3 separate regions of the Homo sapiens genome follow, and all the other regions are linked to region 1. The links come from fine-mapping of genetic effects on gene expression. A gene starts in region 1. Each other region holds a variant in brackets. All regions are shown on one strand. Distances are between the middles of the regions.

The links.
Region 2: its variant is fine-mapped to the expression of CMTR2 in subcutaneous fat (GTEx, PIP above 0.99).
Region 3: its variant is fine-mapped to the expression of CMTR2 in whole blood (INTERVAL, PIP above 0.99).

Annotation. Positions count from the first base shown.
Region 1 is chr16:71,285,452-71,293,640 of GRCh38, reverse strand. It overlaps CMTR2 (cap methyltransferase 2), which reads left to right and starts at 4,239. Exons shown (of 3, transcript NM_018348.6): 1 at 4,239-4,505; 2 at 4,704-4,763; 3 at 7,702-8,189. The coding sequence starts at 7,721. LOC102723786 (a long non-coding RNA gene) reads right to left here and starts at 4,841. Exons shown (of 4, transcript XR_933707.3): 1 at 4,686-4,841. RefSeq lists silencers at 3,967-4,036, 4,117-4,486.
Region 2 is chr16:71,344,420-71,352,608 of GRCh38, reverse strand. No RefSeq gene overlaps it. Among named protein-coding and RNA genes, the nearest start is that of CALB2, 10 kb to the left of the region's middle. The variant G/A (reference allele first, on the strand shown) is at 3,336.
Region 3 is chr16:71,263,882-71,272,070 of GRCh38, reverse strand. No RefSeq gene overlaps it. Among named protein-coding and RNA genes, the nearest start is that of CMTR2, 21 kb to the left of the region's middle. The variant G/A (reference allele first, on the strand shown) is at 3,408.

The sequences.
Region 1 (8,189 bases):
GAGTCCCCAGGGCTAGTGCTTTAACAATTTTGGGTAGTGATTCCACTACTAAATTAAGTATCATAATGATTGCTAATAATGAATAATAATAAAGTAGGTACTTGAAAATCCACAGGGCTGAGTGTTACCTCAGTTCAGTTTTCTCACCTGAACTTTAGCCACCCATTGATTTCCAGCTCCCCTATGGATATTTCCATTTGACTACGCCATGACTGTTCCTAACTCTGTAAGAACCAAGCTTAGTTATTTCTTTCCCTCTTGACCATTTCTTATTGCAGCAGATCTGGTGCCTCAGTCTGCCTTCCATGGTCTTCTGTACTCTGGTTCCTCAATACCTGCTAAAGACTGAATCCCACCACCCTCCCAAATTCCCTAATCCCCAGTGTGATGGTATTTGGAAATGGGGCCTTTGGGAGGTAATTAGGTTTAGGTGAAGCCAGGGGGATGTGGTCCTCATGATGGGATTAGTGCCCTTCTTGAAGAAGAGACAAGAGAGCTTGCTTTCTCTCCACCATGTGAGAATACAGCAAGAAGCTGGCCATCTGCAAGCCAGTAAGAGAGCCTCAATCTCGAACTTCTAATCTCCCACTTGAGAAAACAAATTTCTGATGTTTAAGCCACACTCTCTGGTATTTGTTGTAACAGCCTGATATGGTTTGGTTCCGTGTCCCCACCCAAATCTCATTTTGAATTATAATTGACAGAGCAGGAGTATCGCCATCTTGGACAAGGACTGTCATTTAAAAATTCACCTTAATCAAAAACCACCTAAATCCAAAGGGCATCAGCCTAATGGCTAAGGTCAGCATGAACATAAACCACAAATAACATCTCTGACCAGAAACATTCCAAACTCCTCCCTGATCAGAAACATGCTAGCCCCAAGATAAGCCCCCTCTGGCCAGGAAGATGCTAGCCTCAGATAACTCCCCTCTGGCCAGGAAGATGTCAGGCCAAGATAATAGAAACATTCCAACCCCACCATAAACTTCTCCCCCCACCCCCAAAGAAACATCCAAGCTTGTGATAAACCTGCTCACCCTAAAACCAATTTATACTCTTAGTCGGGAAGAGAAAGTGCTCCTGACCAAAATCAGCCAGAAGCCCCCTCAGGTTTTTTCTCTAAAATAAACCTGTCTTTGACTGTTAAGCCTTGTTTCATATTTCTTTCCTCTTTCTTTAACTCTTAAAGTAATAATCCCCACATGTTGTGGGAGAGAGCTGGTGGCAGGTAATTTAATTATGGGGGGCAGGTTTTTCCCATGCTGTTCTCATGATAGTAAATAAGTCTCATGAGATCTGATGGTTTTATAAAGGGGAGTTCCCTTGCACAAGTTCTCTTGACTACCGCCATGTAAGACGTGCCTTTGCTTCTCCTTTGCCTTCTGCCACGATTGTGAGGCCTCCCCAGGCATGTGGAACTGTGAGTCCATTAAACCTCTTTCCTTTATAAATTACCCAGTCTCAGGTATGTCTGTATTAGCAGCATGAGAACAGACTAATACACAGCCCAAGCTAAGACACTATATATAGCACCTAAGCCACCTATTTAGCATTTAAACGTATTAACTTTCCATCCCTTTTCTGCAAATCTACATTACCTGTCCTCTTGCCTGTTTTTTCACTCATTATTTTCCTGAGCTAGGCTGGCACTCCCCTTCCCCACGTAACTTCACCCTTAAAAGAACAGAAATTAAAGTTTCTTTTTCCCTAGTCTTTTCCTATATTTTTCCTACTAACTTCATTCTTTAGACTCCTACAACACTTAACTTGTACCACACAATATAGCACTTACTTGTATAAATGCTATTCACTTTGCAATAAATCCCTGTACTTTATTATTATTTTGAGACAGGGTCTCACTCTGTTGTACTGGCTAGAGTGCAGTGGTGTGATCTCAGCTCACTGCATCCTCAACCTCCTGGGCTCAGGTGATCCACCTCAGCCTCCCTTGTAGCTGAGATTACAGGTGCACACCACCATGCCAGGTTAATTTTTTGTTTTTCAGTAGAGACGGGGTTTCACTATGTTGCCTAGGCTGGTCTCAAACTCCTGGACTCAAGCAGTCTGCCCGCCTTGGCCTCCCAGAATGCTGGGATTACAGGCATAAGCCACCACACCCAGCCCGTGCTTTCTTTTTTTTTTTTTTTTTTTTTTTTTGTGAGACGGAGTCTCGCTCTGTCACCCAGGCTGGAGTGCAGTGGTGCAATCTCGGTTCACTGCAAGTTCCACCTCCTGGGTTCATGCCATCCTCCTGCCTCAGCCTCCCTAGAGCTGGGACTACAGGCTCTAAATATTTTTAGTTTTAATATAGTTCAATTTATACATTTTTCCTTTATGATTAGTATTTTGTGTCCTGTTATAAACTTTTTGACTACTTCAAGGTTGCAAAGATGTTCTCTTATGTTTTCTTATTAACTTTTAAAATACAGACTGACAATCCAAATGAAATGTATTTTTGTTTATGATGTAAGGAGGGTCCAAATACAATTTTTTTTGCATGGAGAGACACAAATGACCTACCACTATTTTGTGAAAATATAATCTTTTCTCCATTGGTCCATGTTCTGGAAGACTTGTAAAAAATGAATTTTACATTTATGTCTATATATCTATTTACATAAATGGTTAAAAACTCTACACATAATTCTAATATTCTTCTATTTTCATGCAATACTGTTGACACATACAGCCTATTAATGGCTGCATATAATGCATATATGTGCATTATATAGATGTACTGTAATAATTTAATTAATTCTCTTAAAGTAGACATTTAGAGTATTTCCATTTGGCTATGTTATTGAGATGCTGAAATGAACATTTTGTCCAAAGTGAGTGCCAGCTGTTTAATTATCTCCTAAGGATAAACTGCGAGGAGGAGGAATTGCTGGGTTAAAATGCATGTCCTCTTTTTTTCCCGAGACGGAGTCTCGCACTGTCGCCCGGGCTGGTGTGCAGTGGTGAGATCTCGGCTCGCTCCAACCTCCGCCTCCCGGGTTCAAGCGATTCTCCTGCCTCAGCCTCCCAAGTAGCTAGGATTACAGGCGCCCGCCACCACGCCTGGCTAATTTTTTGCATTATTAGTAGAGACGGGGTTTCACTATGTTGGTCAGGCTGGTCTCGGACTCTTGACCTCGTGATCCGCTCGCCTCGGCCTCTCAAAATGCTGGGATTACAGGCGTGAGCCACTGCGCCCAGCCAAAGTGCATGTCTCTTTTCAACGTTTGCCTTCTGGGCTAGGCGGCTTGGCTCATGCCTGTAATCCCAGCACTTTGGGTGGCCGAGACCAACGGATCGCTTGAGTCCAGGAGTTCCAGACCAGCCTAAGATAGGGAGATGCCATCTCTCTAGGAGGATCGCGTGAGCCCGGGGAAGTTGAGGCTGCAGTGAGCCGAGATCGAGCCACTGCACACCAGCCTGGGTGAGGGTAAGACCTTGTTTCAGTAAACAAACAAATAAATAAGTTTGCCTTCCGTAAGGTTTCTAATAACGTTTTTCTTCCATCCACAGATGTAAACCTGTTTCCCCATAGTCACACCAACAGTGGTCATTACCAAGGTTTTACATCTTTGCTAAACCGAGTAAAAAGAAAACTTGCTGTTTTCATTTCCATTCTTGTCTAATAATAGTTTAAACAGTTTTGTATATCCTTAGTGGCTATTTGTTTGACTTTTTTGTTTTTTGGGAGGCCTGTTCTAATATTTGCTCATTTTCCTTCTGGGGTTGTTGGCCTTTTTCTTATTGGCTTATTAAGCAACATAATTAATATATATTATGTCATGTATATATAAACAATCTTATCTTGCAGTTCCCTAGTTTGGCTTTTAACCTATCGTCTTTTGAGCTGCAGTTTCAACCCAGTCTGTACAGGAAGTAACAACTGTCCAGAAGAGTCTGAAAGCCCTTGGGGCCAGCAGCCAGTGAGCGGAACCAGCACGTCCTGACAGACAGGTTTGCCCCGTCCCTTCCCTCCCTCCCCCTCCCCCTCCCCTTCGCCTCCCTGTCCCTCTCCCTTTCACCCCTCTTCGGGACGGAGCCAAAGAATGCTCCGCCTGCGCGCGCCGCTTCCGTTGCCATAGTGGCCGGGGGCGGGAGGCTGGCGCCTCCCAGCTTCTGTACTCCGCGAAGCAAAACCTAGGGAGCTGAGGCCTAGGCGAGGCGAGAGTCGCCGGCGTGCGTAACGTTGGCGCACGTGACTCCGGCCCGGCCTACAGGGCGCGTGCGCAGTGGGACTTGAGTGCCTCCTGGTCCCTGTCTGCCGGCATTCGCGGCTGCGGGGCCCGGAGGTGGGACTGGCTTCCCGGTGCCGCGAGGGCGGGTCCGGACAGCCTTCCCCCCAGTCCGGCGCACCATCTCCCTGCCTTGTGGCTGGAGGCGCCGCGGACCCAAAGGGAGGGACCATCCCGGGAAGCAGCCCCGAGAGCGGAAGTGCAGAATGGCTTCCTCGAGAGAGTAAAGTGCAGCCTCTCCAGACACTGGGGCCCCAGTGGGCGTGGGCGAAGGTAATCCAGGCCTGGGTACGATTCCGGGCCCTCCTTCGACTTCCCAGCGGGTGAGCCAGGGGCTGGGACTGAGTTTCCTCCAGGTCAGGGACCGGGCCTCTGGAGTGGGGTTTGGGACTTACTTCACTAGATGAAATGAGATATGGGGTGCCCGGCCCAAAGTCAGCCCTGGATACTCACTGGCCGTTGTTTTCACAGTTGCTGGTAGGAGGAGTTGGCGGAAGCACTTGGAACTCCTTTATAAGTGTCAGCTGTGAGGTAAAAACTGTTGATGAGATCTTGTGGGTTTTGTTTTGGGTTCACTAATTTGGGCGGGGGCTACATAACTGCCTACTTGAGTTTGCAATATGAGAATGGTAATAGCGACCCACTTAGCAGAATTATGATGTCACAAAGCTCAAAGGACTGTTTAATGAAAGGCTCAGAGGATCATATACTGGAAAATTTTTCCACACACGCTGTAAGCCACATGCTTTTTTTTTTTTTTTTAAGTCATGCATTTAAGTGCTGGAGTGAAGTTGAGGTGCACTATTAATGACTCATATTCAGAACCTGAAGAGAGAGATCCCTTTTGTGCTAAGTATGATATCCACTCATTTATTCAGTAATACTGAGTGCTTACTGTGTACCAGGCAATGTCCAACTTCTTGGAATGGTCTATGTGTAAACAAAACAAAGATCTCTGTCCTGTGGAGCTTACATTCTAGTTTGGGGAAGACAAATAATAAACAGTAAACAAAAAGAAGGAAGTTATAGGTTGGAAGTACATGAGTACCATAGGAAAAAAATACAGCGAGGTAAGAGGCATGGGGAATGCAAGATGCAATCTTAGGTAGGCTTCACTGAGAAAATGACATTTGAGCAAATATTGGAAGGAGGTGAAGGAGTTAGCTGTGCTGACAGCTGGGGAAAGAGCATTCCAGGCAGAGGGACCACCAATGCAGAAAGACTTTTGTCTTGGAATGTGCTTGGTGTCTTCAGTGAACAGCAGAAAGGCCTGTTTGGCTGGAGTAGTGAGTAAGGGAGTAGTAATAAAAATTAGGTGGCAACACAGCAAAAGTATAGTCAGAACGGTGGAGTGTCTGAATCACTTAAGTTGTCCTCATGTGAAGGTAATTTCCTATTAGCTTAGGTAAGGTTTCACAGCTTAACTACAGCCGTTAATTAGTATGTGAAGTTAATGATTAAAATTAGACTTTTTCCGAAATAGAGTATAGATGAGATCTAAACATGGCTGTAGTTTCCAGCAAGCACAATGCGAATTAAGACAGAGGAGCTTGTTGAAAAAAACTTTTATATGCCCTTATTTTAAGATTTTAGTGAATGTGGAAACACCTCAGTTTTGTCTTCCTTTAGAAATTTGTCTAAATATAGCTCTACCAGTAAAAAAGAAACAAACAAAAAACAGGCATAGTGGCTGACACCTGTAATCCCAGCACCTTGGAAGGCCGAGTTGGAGGGATTGCTTGAGCCCAGGATTTTGAGACCAGCCTGGGCAACAGAGCAAGACCCCATCTCCACAATTTTTTTTTTAACTAACTGGGTGTGGTGGTGCACGTCTGTAGTCCCAACTCCTTTGGAGGCTGAGGTGGGAGGATCCTTTGAGCCTGGGAAGAGGTCAAGGCTGCAGGGAGCTATGACCTGTGCCACTGCACTCCAGCCTGGGTAGCAGAGTGAGACCCTGTCTCAAAAAAAAACTTTTTTTTAATATAAATATACCGTGGCAAACAAATGACTAAGAAGACACCTGTTACTTCAAGGAAATTACAAACTGGTAGAGTAGACTTGCAAATAATTTAAACAAAATAAGAAAGAATGAAAAAAGTGTGCTAAAAGAACAGTACAAAGTAAATGCTAAAAGAAACATCATCTGAATATTATTGTATGTATTACAGCAGTAGTTCCCTTTGTTTCTCATTTTGTCCTTGAACATCTGCTTTTCTGGAGTGATGATTTGATTGCCAATTTTTTCATATTTAACAAATTCAGATTTTTTTGAAAATCATTTGTAGAATGCATTGTGTATGCTAAATAAGTGCAGAATTTGTGAACTAAAGCATCTATTGATTAACATTGCACTAACAGGTACCATGTAATATTCATTGCTCTCCCTGCTGGAATTTGTAACTTTTCCAAAACTATGCCATTAAGCCATACTTCTCATATCCTTTTTCCTCTTCAGAAGGAAGAGGTTTCTTTGTTTCTGGTTTCTTTGGCAGTGTTGACTGCCAGAGTATGTAGAGTGACTATTTGTAATTTGTATATTCAATATGTATATTTCTTCAGTATAAAATTCTGCTATCCAAGTGTTAAGTTTTAGTGGCTAGAAGAAATAATGATATGTTATGGTGGAAGTGTGGAGCTGTCTGAACCATATGAAAGCCAGGAATCTATAGTTTGAGACATACCGGGTAAACAGTTGGTCACTTTCAGCATCAAGCAGAAAAAGGCTAACCACTCAAGTACAGCACAGTTTACAAGCAGTATGATGATGAACGTTAGTTGATGACCTGTATAGGTGATTGGTACCACCAAAGTGCCTGTCTTAGAGAATGAAATCTGGACAGAGGATGTATTCAACAATCCTACTAGTGAGGTAAGTGGCTTGTGGCAGGATCAGTACTGGGTTCAGGTACATGATCCTCTCCCTGAAGGAGGTAAAGTATGACGGGAACTAAAAAAAAAAAAAACGAAAAGTCACATGTTAGAGCTTGAACAAAGGTCATGTCCAGGGATGAATCTCTAAGGATGGATTTGTTTGAGGTCATGTAGGTGTTGTCACAGTCATTGGTAGGGAAGAACTTTGGGGAAGAGTTAGATGGGTTACTATGATAATCAGAGCTGTCATTCACTGATGATTATGCTTTGTTATATGTTTTTTATATGCTAGTATGTTTTATCTTCTTCTTAAAAAATGATAGGCTTTTTTTTTTAATGAGAAGAAACCAAATCCAAGAGATGGAATTTGCCCAAGGGTGCTTATTAAGCCATAATTAGCAGAGCTGGAATTTGAACCCAGGTCTTGGATATCAAAGCCTTTTTCATTATTCCAGATTACTTGGTTAAATAACAGAGTATGCTGACTTTAGCCTTCCCATTTTATGGAGTTTGTCATGAGTGTGATCGTATTTGCTGCTCATGAGATTTCGCTCACTAATAAATTTGATTCATTTAATTATGTGTTTTCTCTTCCTAGATTTTAATTTGATTTGAAAATGAGTAAGTGCAGAAAGACACCAGTTCAGCAGCTAGCAAGTCCCGCGTCATTCAGCCCAGATATTCTTGCTGACATTTTTGAACTCTTTGCCAAGAACTTTTCTTATGGCAAGCCACTTAATAATGAGTGGCAGTTACCAGATCCCAGTGAGATTTTCACCTGTGACCACACTGAACTTAATGCATTTCTTGATTTGAAGAACTCCCTAAATGAAGTAAAAAACCTACTGAGTGATAAGAAACTGGATGAGTGGCATGAGCACACTGCTTTCACTAATAAAGCGGGGAAAATCATTTCTCATGTTAGAAAATCTGTGAATGCTGAACTTTGTACTCAAGCATGGTGTAAGTTCCATGAGATTTTGTGCAGCTTTCCACTTATTCCACAGGAAGCTTTTCAGAATGGAAAACTGAATTCTCTACACCTTTGTGAAGCTCCAGGAGCTTTTATAGCTAGTCTCAACCACT
Region 2 (8,189 bases), 59 kb before region 1:
GGCAGCACAGAGAGGGGCCTATTTCCCTTAGGGACATCTATGGGCATGGTGAAAGTAACTGACACCTCTAGTGTTGGGTGCTCAACACAGAAAATTCAAACAAGCTGCGGAACATGTTTGCTTTAACATTGGGTGAAAAAAAAACATTCGGACAAACGAATTCAAATATAAAAGGGAGAGTCTGGGGGAAGGGTGTCATCTAAAACAGGAGTTGGCAAACTTTTTTTTTGTAATGGGCTAAATAGGAATTTTTTTTGAGGGGGGCTGCTTCGTGGGCCGTAGGTTCTCTGTCTCAACTACTCAACCCTGGTATTATAGTGCAAAAGCAGCTATAGATAATATGTAAACAGAGCAATATGACTCTGTTCCAATAATACTTCTTTTAGTAGTAGTAGTAATAATAATAATAATAAGAAGAAGAAGAAGAAGAACTTGGTGGACCTAATTTGGCCTGTGGGACATAGTTTACTGGCCCTCATCTAGTAAATGAATTCTAGGTTCTCTCTAATCCTAATGAAACCTGTGTAGAAGGATTGTTGTAATGATTCCATAAAATAATCTATGCAAATTACCTAGCACCGTGATTGGCACAGGGTCGATGGTGTTGGCTGTTTTTGTTCTCTTTTTTGTCGAGTGGGCTCTCGGAATAACTGGGTTCCAGATCCACCAATGTGCTTGGCTAATCTAGAAGAGTCCCTTCATCTTCTCTGAGCTGAGCTGGAAGTTGATCATATCACTCCATATAGTGAGATGGGATTTCTAAGGAAAGGAGGTGGAGGACGAAGAGAAAGGTGCAGGCAAGGAGGACACAAGGAAATGTAGCGTGCATGAGTGCAAATCCACAGGGCGTCCGTGTGAGGCCGGCTTGGCTCTGCCTGGGGGCCTGGCAGGGAGCCCTGGGCTTGATTTGCAAACAAATTTGCTCTATTTCCTGCCAGAACAGGACTTCCAGGTGGCCAGGAATTTGGACTCCTTTACTAAGGATGGGAAAAATGTCCCTAGAGGGACAGTGCCCCACTTCCAGGATTCCCCAGAATGCAGCAGGAATGTGAGAATGAGATGTTCAAAGATAAGGGCTGCATTTCATTCACTCATGAATTCATTACAAATTTTATTCATTCATGCTGTGTAAAAAATATTGATTAGCCAGCTACTTTGTGCCAGGCACTGTACTAGCAAAACAGAAATGATTCCTCCTTTCAGGAGTTTAAAGTCCAGTGAGGGAGACAGACATTGATCAAACCACACAATCACACATATAAGTGAAAACAGAGTGAATATCAGGGAGCGACCGTATCTAGCATGAGTAGGAAGCCATCCTGAGAGTGAACTAACCAGGAGGAGGGAGGAGGTGAGCATTCCTGGATTTAAACCCCATGCACCAAGGCTCCGTGCTGGCAGAGCTGTAAGAAAGCCAGAGGGATGGGAGATCAGTGGGACGAGTGGGTGCATGGTGGAGGTGACCCTGGAGAGGTTGGCAGGGCCAGACGCTAGAGCACTGGGAGCTATCAAAGGGTTTTCTGCCAGCAACAAACATAACCAGGATTATGGTCTCCCTCTGGCTCCTGTGTAGGGGGTGACTAGCGAGGAGTCTAAGTGGACACAGGGAAACCTATCAGGTGACTCCCGAGACTGTCTGGGAAACACGGCCGTACCTGGGCCTCCAGAGGGGCAGTGGTCATGGAGCAAAGTGATCAGGAACTTTGTAGGCAGAAAATAGGATTTGGCCATGAGTTGGATATGGACAGTGAGGGAGAGGGCGATTCCCAGTTGGTATTGGCACCTGGGAGAAAAGCAGACACTGACTGAGATGGGCGATGCTGGCAGAGGACTAGATTTGAGAAGGATACACCCTGCATTTGTTGGATGTGTTGAGTTTGAGTTGTCTTTGAATCAATCTACTGTGGACAAATGTTTGTATCCCTTCAAAATTCAGATGTTGAAAGCCTAACCCCTGATACGATGGTATTCAGAGTGGGGTCTTTGGGGCATGATTAGATTATGAGGGTGGAGCCCTCATGAATAGGCTTAATGCCCTTATAAAAAGAGGAAAAGGCAGGGCGTGGTGGCTCACGCCTGTAATCCCAGCACTTTGGGAGGCCGAGGTGGGCGGATCACAAGATCAGGAGTTCAAGACCAGCCTGGCCAACATGGTGAAATCCCATCTCTACTAAAAATACAAAAATTAGCTGGGCTTGTTGGCGCACGCCTGTAGTCCCAGCTACTCAGGAGGCTGAGGCAGGTGAATCGCTTGAAGCTGGGAGGCGGAGGTTGCAGTGAGCTGAGATCATGCCACTGCCCTCAAACCTGGCGACAGAGCTAGATCCCGTCTCAAAAAAAAAAAAAAAAAAAAAGGAAGAGACACAGAATCTCTTTCTGTGCCCTCTGCCATATGAAGATACATGAAGATATATGAAGATACATCTGCAAACTAGGAAGTGGATATTCACCAGACACTGGATCTGCTGGCATCTTGAAATTGGACTTCCCAGCCTCCAAAACTGGGGGAAATAAGTTTGTGTTGTTTGAGCTACCCAGTCTATGGTATATTTGTTATAGAAGTCTGAGCTGACTACAACATCATCTAAGGGAATGCATAGACCAGGCAGGGGGATTTATGGAGCCAGAGTTTGGAGGAGAGGTCTGGGCTAGAGAGGTAAATTTGAGAACCCCTGGGTGTTGAAACTGCACCTGGCCTAGCCTTACACACTTGGCTGGTTTTACCTCGGGGGTCCTCAGGTGCTATCTCCAAGCCCATTTCCCACTGCTCCCATGCCCAGTAGCTACTCAGGGCAGAGGCAATGGCTCCAAGGTTGAAGGTGTCCGTAGCTTTGCTCTTCAAGTTTCAGATCCATGAGTCTCACTAAAAGAGAAAGTAGTTCCTTCTAAGATGGACATGTTGGCTAGAACCATAAATGGGCAAGTTTAAGATATTTCTTCACCCCATCTGCCCTTCCCTTGAGGAAGATCAGATCAATTACAGTAAAACAAAGGAACGATATTTTCTTTGCACGTCTAACGGAGTGAATCTGTGACCCTACTGTGCCCAGTCTTATTTGTCTCCCCAGCTAGAATGGAGGTAGGTAGGACCTTGTCTACCTTGTCTATTTTGCTCATCACTTTTCTTCTTAGCTTGCAGCACCATTCATGGCCCAAATGCACTCAAGGGATAATTGTTTTGTTTTGTTTTTGTTTGTTTTTTGTTTTGTTTTGTTTTTTTGAGATGGAGTCTTGCGTTGTCGCCAGGCTGGAGTGCAGTGGTGCGATCTTGGCTCACTGCAACCTCTGCCTCCTGGGTTCAAGTGATCCTCCTGCCTCAGCCTCCCAAGTAGCTG[G/A]GACTACAGGTTTGTGCCACCACGTCCAGCTAATTTTTTGTACTTTTAGTAGGGACGGGGTTTCACCATGTTGGCCAGGATGGTCTTGATCTCTTGACCTTGTGATCCGCCCGCCTTGGCCTCTCAAAGTGCTGGGATTACAGGCATGAGCCACCGTGCCCAGCCGAGATAATTGTTGAATGAATGAAAGACTGAATGAAGATCACAGGAGTGGAAAAGGATGTTTCTGTGTATAGAGTCGAGACCCTTCTGGAAGCTCTAGAAATGACCCCTTGCACGCACCGGGACAGCTCAGCTCCTGTTAAGCAAGTGCCTGGCAGCAAGCCCACTTGGGCTGCCGTCCGGAGGGCAGCTGCTTGCCCTGCTGGGGGCCTCGGCACCGTCTGGTCAGGAGGAGCTGCCTGCCTCATAGCTGCTCCCTGAGCTGCCTTCCCGAGCACGTCAGTGGGAATCCCCTGACAGGCAGGCCACAGGAGGGGGCAAGTGGTGAGCAGGCCGAGCTCGGAAGAAGCCAAACTGGGGTGCTTCCTGGAGTCTGCAGATTGGCCGTCATTGCCGATGGTCTGATACGAGAGCCAGAAGCCTAGGCCCGGCTCAGCCCACCAGGTAGAAGATCAAGAGGGAAGAGAGGAAGACAGAGGTGGAGGGTAGGAAGGAGAAAGGCATAGTGATTTTCGAGGGACTGCGGAGCCAGTTAGTGACACCTGGGTCTCCTGGGTCTCCCACTCACAGGAGATGCCAATGATACCTGCCAAGATCCCCTCTGACAATCGTGCACCATTCCCCGGCTGCTGTGGGTGTTGGGTGCCAAGGCTCAGACCTGGACCATTCTCCGGAGAATTGTCACCTTGCACAGAGGTGCTCCTCCCACCCCAACCATGGGACAATCCATAGCCAATTACTGATGTATAAGAGGTATAGAGGCTGAGCGCCTTGCCTTGAGGTGGGGAAACCCTGCAGTACCCTTCATGCCCCAGAGCTTCCCATGGGATCCGGCTGGGGCCAGACTTCAGCAGAACCTGCACCTCTACTTCTTCCTTGCCCAGCCTTCTCCTATGTCTCTTTACATACTTTAGAGCCCTTCTATGATAACACAACTGCACAAGACTTTTCCAACAGACCCAAGACATTCTCTCAGGCTAAAATTTGTCTCTCACCACTTGTTGAAGCCCTAACCCTTCATTTAGAACCCAAGTTTCTGAAGCTTCCAGAAACATGCATTTTCACATACAGGCAGGTGCCCCTACATCTCTTCACATCAGTGGCATGCCAACAAAGCATTCTCACACCACCCTTTGTCCACTGTATGAACTTGGACTAACAATTTGACTTCTCGGAGTTTCTATTTCTGCATCCAAAGACCTGGAATCCTAATACAGTCTTGCAGAATGGCTGTCAGACAGGGAGAGGCGGGGGTGCCCGGTGACAAAGAACCTGGCTTTAGAGTCACACACAGACCCGCCCAGCTCTGTGACCTTGGGTGCTGTGAGCTTCTCTGGCCTCCGTTTTCTCATCCATGAAATGAAGTTAATAATAGCACTGAAGCCGTAGGTGCCTGAACGCACTGGTTGCGTGCAAAGCACTTCACACGGAGCCTGGCCCACTTAGTGAATACGAGCCAGAGAGCTTAGCTCTCGCCTGGCACAGACTAAGTACTCAGTAAGAAGTGAGTATTGTATTTTTATTAATGGGAATGATATGTGTAAAGTCAGGTGGTAATAATGACAACAAATAGTCTTTGGATTTGTGAGAGGTGCCTGAAGAGTGTCCCAGAAGTGTAGCAGATGGACCTGATGAGGCCTGATGCATGGGATGTGGGCTGGGGAGTGGCAGGCAGATGGGGCCCACCTGGGCTCACTTCTCAGTCAACTGGTGTGAACCCTACGGCCACTGTTCTGCGGCAGCCCACCGCCGGTGGCTTACCTGCACGCCAGCCATTTGTCACCCTGTCATCACCTCCACACTTGAAAGCAGATCCCCAGGGATTGTGGACAAAGCACACAGAACAAGGAGCCACTTTTTTTCCCTCTAGGCCTGGAGAAGGGAAGGCAAGGATGGCACCCAGCAAAGAAAGACCGACGGCTTGTCCTTAGGGAGAGGGCATCTCAACAAGATGGGAAAGGGGTCAGGGCTCACAGGCAGATCCAGCCACCTCGTGTGTGTGTGTGTGTGTGTGTGTGTGTATGTGTGTGTGTGGTCTGCAAGCTAAGAATGGCTTTTGCATTTGTAAATGGCTGGAAAAAATCAAAAGAGGAATAATACTTTGTGAACATTATATGAAATCCAAATTGCAGTGTCCATAAATAAAGTTGTTTTGGAACACAGCTGCCCTCATCCCTTTGCTTATTGTTTCTGGTCACTTTTGTGCTACAATGGCAGGCTGAGTGGTTGCAACAAACTCTATGGCTTGCAAAGCTGAAAGCATTTACTATCTGGCCATTTTCAGATGAAGTTTGCTGACTCCTGACTAAGAGCATTGGGCTGACCAAGATTGGGTGGAAAGGAAAGTCACATCCCTCCTGCCTACGGTCCCCTCTCTCCCCACCCCTGCCAAAAATTCCATACCTTTTCAGTAAGCTTTCTCTTCGAATCATTGGTATTTTCTTAACATCTGGCTGATGCAGAGGGAAGTATCTGATTAATAAATTCGCACTAAGGTGTTGGTGACTTCATGTATTGCACCCTCCTTGTCCCAGGAGGTTGGACTATAGGAATAAATCTTTCAGTGGTGGCATTTGAGGAACTGTGGAATGTATCTGATTGTACGTGTGTGCATGCACATGTGCAACACACACACACACAGAGGGAGAGTGATTTGTAATTATAAAGGGTGGAAGCTTGGATGCTTCAGGGCCCGGGACCAGAGGAAATAGAGAAGTAGATTCTGTGGGGATGAACCATCTGGGAATGGGTAGTATGCAAGCCACATTATTGACTCCCAGAACCTCTAAGGGCAGGTTAGAAAAGGTGCCTTCCTTCTTGATGTGAACTCTAAGCTTCTATGGGCTGGGCATGGGAGCTCGTGTCCGTAATCTCAGCTCTTTGGAAGGCCGAGGCAAGAGCATCCCTTGAGGGCAGGAGTTAAAGACCAGCCTAGGCAACATAGCAAGACTCCAACTTTACACAAAAATTTTTTTAAATGAACTAGGCGTGATGGTGCACACCCATAGTCGCAGTCACTCAGGAGGCTAAGGCAGAGGATCGCTTGAGCCCAGGGGTTCGAGGCTGCAGTGAGCTATGATTGCACCACTGCACTCCAACCTGGGCAACAGAATGAGACCCTGTCTCTAAAAAAAAAGAATCAAAAATCGAAAAAAAGCAAATAGAGTGATGAGTACACAAAAAGGCAAACTTTACCACTATGCAATATTTCCATTAACACAATTTCACTTGTATCCCTAAATCCATAAAAATGCACAATTAAAAAAATAACAAATAAATCAACCTCTAGTACAAACCTCCCTTGATAGCACTGGGAGGTCTGGGAATCTGTGAACAAGTCATGACAATGGGGGTACTGCTCCCCCAAGGAGGTGGCCAGGAGGCCAGCCCCCCTTGGCTTGGCCCAGAGGACAGGTGACAGCTGGCTTTGTGCCCTTGCTGGCCTTGATGCTCACTGTGCGGGTCTTTGGTGCCCTGGGTGCCAGCTGCTTGCCTTTCCCCAGCGGTGCACTTTTGTCCTCTTCTCTCTGCTGCCTGCATCTGAAGGTCAGTCACAGCCCGGGATTGGGGCCAGGTCAGCCTGGCTACCGCAGTTCAGCATCACATAGACTGCGGCATCAGCCATTCTTCCTACAGGGCTTAATTGGCTGGACAGCTGCAGTAGGCTGTCACTCCAGCCTGCCACCTCTAGCCTCTGTTCTCTAAGTTGTGCTCTCAACCAAAACCAGGACGATTGTTCCAAAATGCCAGTCTCACTGCAGAACTCCTCGTTTAGAATCTTTGTTGGCTCTCCATCCCTGAGGGTGTACTCTCCTCCTCCCGGCCTCATCTCCCCCTACCACCCCTCTCAGTCTTCACTCCACCTCCGCGGAACTCCTCGAGGCTGCCGGAATGTGCCCATTGTTTCCCACCGCCTAGCTTTTGTGTTGCTGTGACCTGTGTTGGAAAAATCTCTTTCCCCAACTTGGCAACTCCCACCCCTCCTTCAAGATTCCCCAGAGCCTCCTTCTCTGACCTCCCCGATAGGATGACTGACGAGGGCTCTGTTAGAAGTTCCTGCTAGTTACATGCTAGATACCCCAATGACCCCTGTGACCCCAAACTCAGTACACAACCAGCTTCCAGACACATCCAGCTTCCTCTTAGTGAGTGCTTTCTATGGGGTTGGTGCTGGGCTGAGTACTTGTCTGGGTGATCTCATTTCATTCCCAGCTGCAAAGTGGGCCTCAGATACTTCCCACCCCTAAGGCTGTGGCAAGGAGTAAACAAGGGAATGTATGTTGGCCCAAGACCTTGTCCCTGTAAAAGCGTCATAAATTGGAGGAGTGATTAACAGCTGAAGCCAGCCCATCAGAGTTCTGCCCGGATCCCCTGCAATCCCGGTTACACGTTCTGGGCCTCCCCACTGAGCTTCCGTGGCTTTTGCTCCTCCCAGCTCACACCTGCTGCCTCTTCAGGGCCTGCCTGAGTCACTTCACCTGCACGGGACCCAGAAGGTCTCCCACAGGAGCAGGCTGGGGCAGGACTTTGCCTGATATCACACCTTTGGTGGCCTCTTTTCTTTCACTGTCCTGCCTCCCTTGCTTTCTCCTTGGCGTCTCCTGGTCGCACTTGCTTGGTAAGTCGTTTATACCCAAATCCTCATCTCAAGCTCTGCTTCTGGGGATCTGATCTAAGGCAGGGTTGGCAAAC
Region 3 (8,189 bases), 22 kb after region 1:
AATTAGTTTTTACATAAGGATAGAGGCTTATTAATTTTGTTCCTGCAGAGAAGTGTCAATAATTGCTAAACTGCTCCCCATCACCTTTTAAGATTTGCCTGCCTAATTCCTGTTGCTTAAACCTTGTGACCTTCTTACCTTCCAGCCCACCCTCTCCCTTATCAGTTGATTGGACCAAGTTTGGTCAGCTCTCTGGAATGTAAGACCAAAAGATGATTTCAGCTGATCAGAGTCTTTTGCAATTGGAGAACTTAGAGAGAGGCAGTGAGGAGTGAGTTCTGAAGCTGTAAGTTTAGGATGTGAGAAATCCTGGATAGATCATAACATACAAATTCATTGTGTGTGTGTGTAATTTTTTTTTCATGGCTGGCTTTACTCTATCCTTAAAATTTCATCTCAAATATCATCTTCTCAGAAAGACTTTCACAGATCACCTAAGCCCTAGCCCCATTCACCTTCCCCAACCATCACCATTCTGTAACACAGAATCTGGTTTTGTTTTTCTTAGTTTGAGTCGTTTATTTGTGTACTTATTATTTCTTCTATTCCACTCTCTCTGCTTTTTATTTCATTTTCTTGCCTTTTTGCTCTAGCTAGGACTTCCACTATGATGTTGAGTAGGAGTGCTGTGAGGCAGTACTTCCTTGCCTTAGTCCTAATCTTAGGAAGAAATGGTCTTTTATAATTATGGTATTAGATGTAGGGTTTTTCAGTAAAAGTCCTTCATCCTATTAAGAAAGTTTCCTTCTATTCCTATTTTGTTGAGATTAAAAGAAAACACATGAATGGATGTTGAATTTTGTCAAATGCCTTTTCTGTAACTGTAGAGGTGACCATGTGGTTTTTCTTCTTTAGACTGTTAAGATGGTGAATTATATTGGCTGATTAAAAAACAACCTTTTTTTTGGTAGAGATGAGGGTCTCACTATGTTGTCCAGGCTGGTCTTGAACTCCTGGGCTCAAACCATCCTCCCTGTTGGCTTCCCAAAGCACTGGGATTACAAGCGTGAGGCCACTGCACCCAGCTGTATTGGCTAATTTTTGAATGTTGAATCTGCTTTGTATTCCTGGGATAAACTCCACTTGGCTTATCTCTTTCATATATTTCTGGATTTGATTTGATAAATTTCTTGGAGAATTTTGATATCTATGTTCATAATAAATATTGGTCTGCAGTTTTCTTTTCTTGTAATGTCTGGTTTTGGCATCAGAGTAATGCTGGCCTCATAAAATGCTTTGGGAAGTGTTCTCTTTTCTTCTATTTTCTGGGAAGTGTTCTCTTTTCTTCTATTTTTCTGGAAAAAATTCTGTAGAATTGATTTTTCTTTCTTAAGTGTTTGGTATAATTCTCTAGTGAAACCATCTGGGACTGGAATTTCTGTTTGTTAGAAGGTTTTTAACTACAAATTTCATTTCTTTAATCGATATACAACTGTCCTGGTTGACTTGTTAAGTGAGTTTTGGTAGTTGATATCATTCAGGGAATTGCTCCATATCATGCAAGTTTTTACATTTATGGGCATTGAGTCTTTCATACTATTCTTTTATCTTATTAATATCTGTGGCATCTGTAGTGACATCCTCTTTTTAACTCCTGAAATTCGTAATTTCAGTTTTCTCCTTCTCCTTTTTCTCCTTCCTTCCTTCCTTTTTTTCCTTCCTTCCTTCCTCCCTCCCTCCCTTTCTTTCCTTTCTTTCCGTCCCTCCCTCCCTCCCTCTTTCTTTCCTTCCTTCCTTCCTTTCTCTCTCTCTGTCTCTTTCTTTTTCCTCTTTCTTTCTCCCCCTCCCTCCCTTCCTCCTCCTCCTCTTCCTCCTCCTCCTCCTTCTCCATCTGGCTAGGGTTTTTATCAACTTTATTGATCTCTTTAAAAACACAGGTTTTGGTTTTATTTATTTTTGTGTACTTTGTCCCAATTTTATTGATTTCTGCTGTATTTTAAAATCTCCTTTCTGCTTGTTTTGGATTTTATTTGCTCTTCTTTGTCTAGTTTCTTAGGTCGAAGCTTAGGTGAGTGATTTGAGATCTTTCTTCTTTTTAAATATAAGCACTGTATGCAATGAATTTTCTTCTAAGCATGGTTTTAGCGGCATCTCATGTGTTTAGTTTTCATTTTCAAAATATTTAAAGTGGGTTTCTTGTAGACAGCATACGGTTCCTTTTTAATCTAATCTGAAAATCTTCCTTTCAATTGATGTTTTAACTGCTTGCATTTAATGTGAATACTGATATTGGATTAAAATCTGTCTTGCTACCTGTTTTCTATAAATTCTTTATATTTCATTTTTTTCTGCCTTTTTTGGGTTAAGTGAGCAGTTTTTATTATTTCATCTATTTATCTATAGTATTGACTTACTACCTATAGCTCTTAAAAAGTTTTTAGTAGTTACAATATAACACATTAATCAAAGTCTACCCTCAAGTAATATTATACTCCTATGTGTGCTATGAGGACCTTATACTCATGTTTCCAATCAGTCTGTCTCATTCTTTGTGCTATTTTTGTCTCCTATGTTACTTCTATGTATGCTACAAGGCACAATATAATTCCACTTTTTTTGCTTAAATTGTTCCTTTTCAGAGCAATTAAAACTGATAAAAGCAAAATTGTTATTTTTATTTATGCCATGTCTAGCATTATTTGTTTCTTCATCTAAATGTATGTATCTGGTATCAAATTTCTCTTTTCTGAAGAATATTCTTTAAAATTTTTATGGTTTAGTACTGATGACAGTTAATTTAATTAGTTTTTTTTTCTAAGAAAGTCTTTTTATCCTTTATTTTTGAAAGATATTTTCACCAGGTAGGGAATTCTGTATTGACACTATTTTTTCTTTTAGTCCTTTGAAAATGTTACTCTATTGTCTTCCGACTTGCATGCTTTCTAATAAGATGGGCTGTTTATTTCTCTGTGTTAATGTGTCTTTTTTACCCCTGCTGGTTTCCTTCAAGACTTTGTTTTGTGTTTTCAGAACCTGAATATGATATGTCTATCTCTGGCTTGGTATTTATCTTGGTTGTTGTTTTGGATCTGTAGTTCAATGTATGTCATTAATGTTGGAAATTCTCAGGCATTATCCCTTCTTATATTTATGCTACCTCATTTCTGTCTCTTTTTTCCTTCTGGAATTCTAGCTATACATCTGTTAGATCATTTTATATTGTCCTATAGTTTCTGGATGCTTGGTGCTGTTTTTATTTTTTACTCTTTATTCTCTTTCAGGTTGGATGATTTCAAGTTCACCAACTCTCCCCTTAGCACTGTCAAGTCTACTGATGAGCCTGTCAGTGACAGTCTTGATGTCACTTGGTCTTGATCTTTTACTGCGTTTTTCACTTTTAACAGCGTCATTAGATTTTTTTCTTACAGTTCTCATTATCTCTACTGAAATTACCCATCTGACAATGC[G/A]TGTTGTCCAGTTCTTTCACTGGACACTTCAATATATTTGTCATAGCTATTTTAAATTCCTTATCTAATAGTTCCGATATCTGTGTCATATATGAGTCTGGTTCCGTTGATTGCTTTGTCTCTTGGCATTGTGGGGCTTTTTATTTTCGTTTTTGTTTTATATACCACGTACTTTATTTACTTTTTTATTGAACACTGGACAGCACTGATTGAGGTAAATAGTTTTTATGCCTGCAAATGGGGTACATTTTTTCCTTTTCTAGATTTTTTTTTTTTGAGATGGAGTTTCACTCTTGTTGCCCAGGCTGGAGTGAAATGGCACGATCTTGGCTCACTGCAACCGTTGCCTCCTAGGTTCAAGCGATTCTTCTGCCTCAGCCTCCCTAGTAGCTGGGATTACAGGTGCCCACGACCACGCCCAGCTAATTTTTTATATATTTTTTAGTAGAGACAGGGTTTCACTATGTTGGCCAGGCTGGTCTTGAACTCCTGACCTCAGGCTATCCACCCACCTTGGCCTCCCAAAGTGCTAGGATTACAGGCGTGAGCCACCGCGCCTGGCCTCTTTTTCTAGATTTTTAGTGTGGAATGTGAATCAACCTAGACAGGCGTTGAGGTGGCTTTGGGGGTTTGTTGTTCATAGGGCTATCCTCAGTGTACCAGAGACTTCAAATTCTTCTAATAAAATGTTGTATTAGGAGCAGGGCTGGTTTACCCACTGAATAGACTTTTCTCAATGTTGGGCCTACCCTTAGCCTTACACTTTCTCCTTATGCAGTGACCCCAGAGAGTTTCTCTCCATGTCCTTGCTTCTCTCTGGGCCCTCTCAGCAGTCGTCTGCTGTTGCTGTGTGATGCTTCTTGCTCTGGTGGTGGCAGGTGAAGGAAGTGTTCCCTGTCGTTCTAACTAAGCCTCAGTGTTGAGTGGATACTGTGTCTCTGGGTCTCAGGAGTGTGACCTTTTTCATGCTTCTGTTTCTCCCCAGTGATAGTTCTGAGCCCAGCATATACTCCTGCTCCTCCCTGAGGTGTGGAGGATTTTTTTTTTTTTAACAATTTCCTTCCCAAAGCTGCAGTTGGTATTCAGGAGTGCTCTAAGGGCAATAGTGCTTGTTGCTCTTATTCCCCACTCTAGGTGAAGTTGTTGGGTTTTCTTGTATTGCTTTTGTTTTAACAGGGGAGATAGGGAAGAAGGATCTGGGCAGGTATCCACGCCCTTCCTGCAACAACTGCTTCTCCCCTCCCCTAAGCATGTCTTCTCAGCACTGCTGCCATCATTGTTTATGAGCACCCACTAGGGCCTGTAGAGAGAAGCCTGTGAGTGGTGTAAACTCCCTTTGTATCTGAGGCCATATTCTGTCACCTGCCAATACTCAGATTCCACCAGTTTCTTCACAGTTCTTCTGGGTGTTCAACTGCCCCACGTAAACAAATGCTTGCATCTGACTTTTCCTGTAGGCACTTCTCTTTACTTTGATTTTGGGCTAGTTGGTGCTTCTTCAAATAAACTAGTTGTTTCTTCAACTCTTTGATGGATCCAAGAAAAGTTGTTAACTTGAAGTTCGTTCAACTTATTTTTTTTATTAATTTTAAGGGTGGGAGAGGTATTCTTTCTAGTTCTTTTCCAGCTCCCCAGCTCCAGAGTTGAAGCCAGAAACCTGATCCTCCTTTTTACCCCTAATATCTTCTATTCATAGGGTGACTGTTCGTCCTGGTTTACACCAGTATAATTATTAACAGCACTCACTTTTCACTCAGTTTCTCTGTTTGCATGATAACTTGTATGATCACCTTTTCTTTTGGTAGTTTGTCCTTGAAAAATATTACATAATGAGGTTTCACCAGCAGCATATGTTAGGTTTGGACAGATTTAGTTATCCTGGATAAAAATCAAATATTGAAGATCATTTTGGTGATATTCAAAAGGACATGGAGAGAACAGGTGTAAGTGAAAGACATATCAGCCAAATCTAATGTGTAGACCTTGTTTGGATCCTATTTCAATCCAAAAGGATTTTTTTTTAGAGAATCAGGAGCATTTGAACTTGGGCTAGGGATTACAAGGTATTAAAGTAATGTTATTATTTTGTTAGATATTGCAATGATATTATAGTTATGTTTTTAAAATCTTATTTTTTGTTAGAGATACGTTCTAATGGATTTGGAGGTTTAATGGTGTGATAGCAGAGGTTTCTTTTTGTTTGTTTTTTTGAGACGGAGTTTCACTTTTGTTGCCCAGACTGGAGTGCAATGGCGCGATCTTGGCTCACTGCAAGCTCTGCCTCCTGGCTTCAGGCAATTCTCCTGCCTCAGCCTCCCGAGTAGCTGGGATTACAGGCATGCGCCACCACGCCTGGCTAATTTTGTATTTTTAATAGAGACGGGGTTTCTTCATTTTGGTCAGGCTGGTCTCAAAGTACCGACCTCAGGTGATCCACCCCCCTCAGCCTCCCAAAGTTTTGGGATTACAGGCGTGAGTCACCATGTCCAGCTAGAGGTTTATTTTAAAATACTCAAACACAAAAAGAAAAGTGAAGGGAGAGAGAAAGGTGGTAGGTAAAGACAAGAACAGCAAAATTTTGATAATCACTGAAGCTAGGTGATAGGTATTTGGGGATTCATTATTTTATTATCTTAATTGTTTTCTGTTTGACAATTTCCATAATAAAACTTTTTGTTTTGAGACAAAGTCTCACTCTATCGCCCTGGCTGGAGTGCAGTGGCACGATCACAGCTCACTGCAGCATTGAACTCCTGGGCTCATGCGATCCTCCTGCTTTAGCCTCCTGAGTAGCTAGGACTACAGATGTTCACTGCCATACCTGGCTAATTTTTTACATTTCGTAGTTATGGGATCTTGATATGTTGACCAGGCTGGTCTTGAACTTCTGGCCTCAAGTGATCCTCCTCCCTTGGCCTCCCAAGAAAATAAAAACTTTTAAAGAGAGACAAGGATATGATCAGGAACCTATATCTTAAAAAAAAAAATAAGATGATTATTCAACCATTTAAACTAGTAAGGTGATTTTTTTCTTGTGGCAGAGGCTAGGCAGCTGTGCCTCCAAAATTCATTTGAAAACTTTTTGGTTCAGTGATTATTCAGCAAACCAGATGATCTATGATATGGCAGGTCAAGGAGAACAGAAAGAGGTGAAATGCCATAGTTTCAATGCAGTTCAGTCCTGCAGACCCACTCTGGACCAGGATGGGGGAAGAGCCTTGCAGGTGTCTTCTTAAACCTGACTCAATTTACTGTGTATTCTGTGCAAACTTCAGAGGGAGAACACTGTGCTTTTCTTCCCTTTTATCCAGGTTCTCATTGTCGTTTTATTATCTCCTGCTCATAATATGTAGAGACAAATGCCTTGGGAAGGGTAGTAACAAGGCTGTAAATCCAGTGGAGGAAAGGACTGTTCACTGTTTTGAACAGTGAACAATATGCCTACTGCCATTACTGGCAGATAAAATACATTAAATAAATATTGTATGAAGGAATGAATGAACAAATCCATATTTGCTGCTTGCCACATAGAAGATAAATAAATACTGTCTACATTGAATTGAATTGTGAGTGACAAAATTGAAAAAATAACTTTAGAGTTTATGTTGGACCATTTAATGTCGAACCTCTTCAAAGTCTTTTGGAGATGTCCAGATGGACAAAATCAGCCAATATGATGTTCATGACCAGGCAAGGGAAGCCAAAATGAAGGGCAGCTTTATTTAAAATGAATAGAACAAGATATAGTTACATTCATGCCACTGTTCTTTTAAAATATATCCATAGAAATGATTAGTCCTTTAAAAGTCTTCATGCCACAGTTCTGCAAAGAAATCAGGAGACTTTGTAAATATCCTGTCCGCAAAAAGTTAGAATGACAAGCACCCTTAAATAAACAGGAATAATTAATCATAGGTGTGGTTGTTTTGATGAGCATGCAAGAGTGACAAGTTAATAAATAAGCAGTTCATACAGGGAAAGTGGCTAAGGAGGTGCTGTGGTTTAATTTACATCTTTGGAAGGTAGCAAAGATTTAATAATCTCCCTGCCTCATACATCAAACGAATACCCCTGAGGCAGAAAAGCAAAACGTTTTTAACTGTTAATCTGAGAAGCAATAAAATCCTGCCTCAGGTCACAAATAAATTGAGTTTCTAGTGGTCTCGATGGATCCCTAGTATGTGTGATTTATTCAGATTCTAAAGCTACTCAGGACCACTTAGAGCCTTGGGGGAGTGCCATGGGAGTTACCAATCTAATCAGAAGTTCTAGACTAAGGGCAATGACTGATCTTAGCTTACATCTACCCAATAATTTATTTTACCTTCTTGGTCAACTACAGATAGATTATGAACTACAAACATATGAATTTGAGATTCAGTTCTAAATGATTGTTTTTAGTTGGGGTTGTAACTATCTTTGTGCTTATATAGTACGTGTGTTTAAAAGATCAGAAACTGTTTTGAACTTTCTACTTTGTAAGTGTAGGATTTTCACTGACTAGAGAAACCAGGATGCCAAAAGGGAAATAACTCTCCGTGGCATCATGAGCCATTTGTGAAATCTAAATAATTTTCAGGTTTCCAAAGCAGCTTCATTTCTTAAGCCCCTAAGCTATGGGGTGTATTTCTTACTGGAAAGCAGTCCCAATCTAGACTCCCAAGAAAGGGTTCTTGGATCTTTTGCAATAAAGAGTTCTGGGGGAGTCCATAGAGTAAAGTGAAAGCAAGTTTATTAGGGAAGTAAGCAAAAGAATGGCTGCTCCATAAAAAGCGGGTTGGC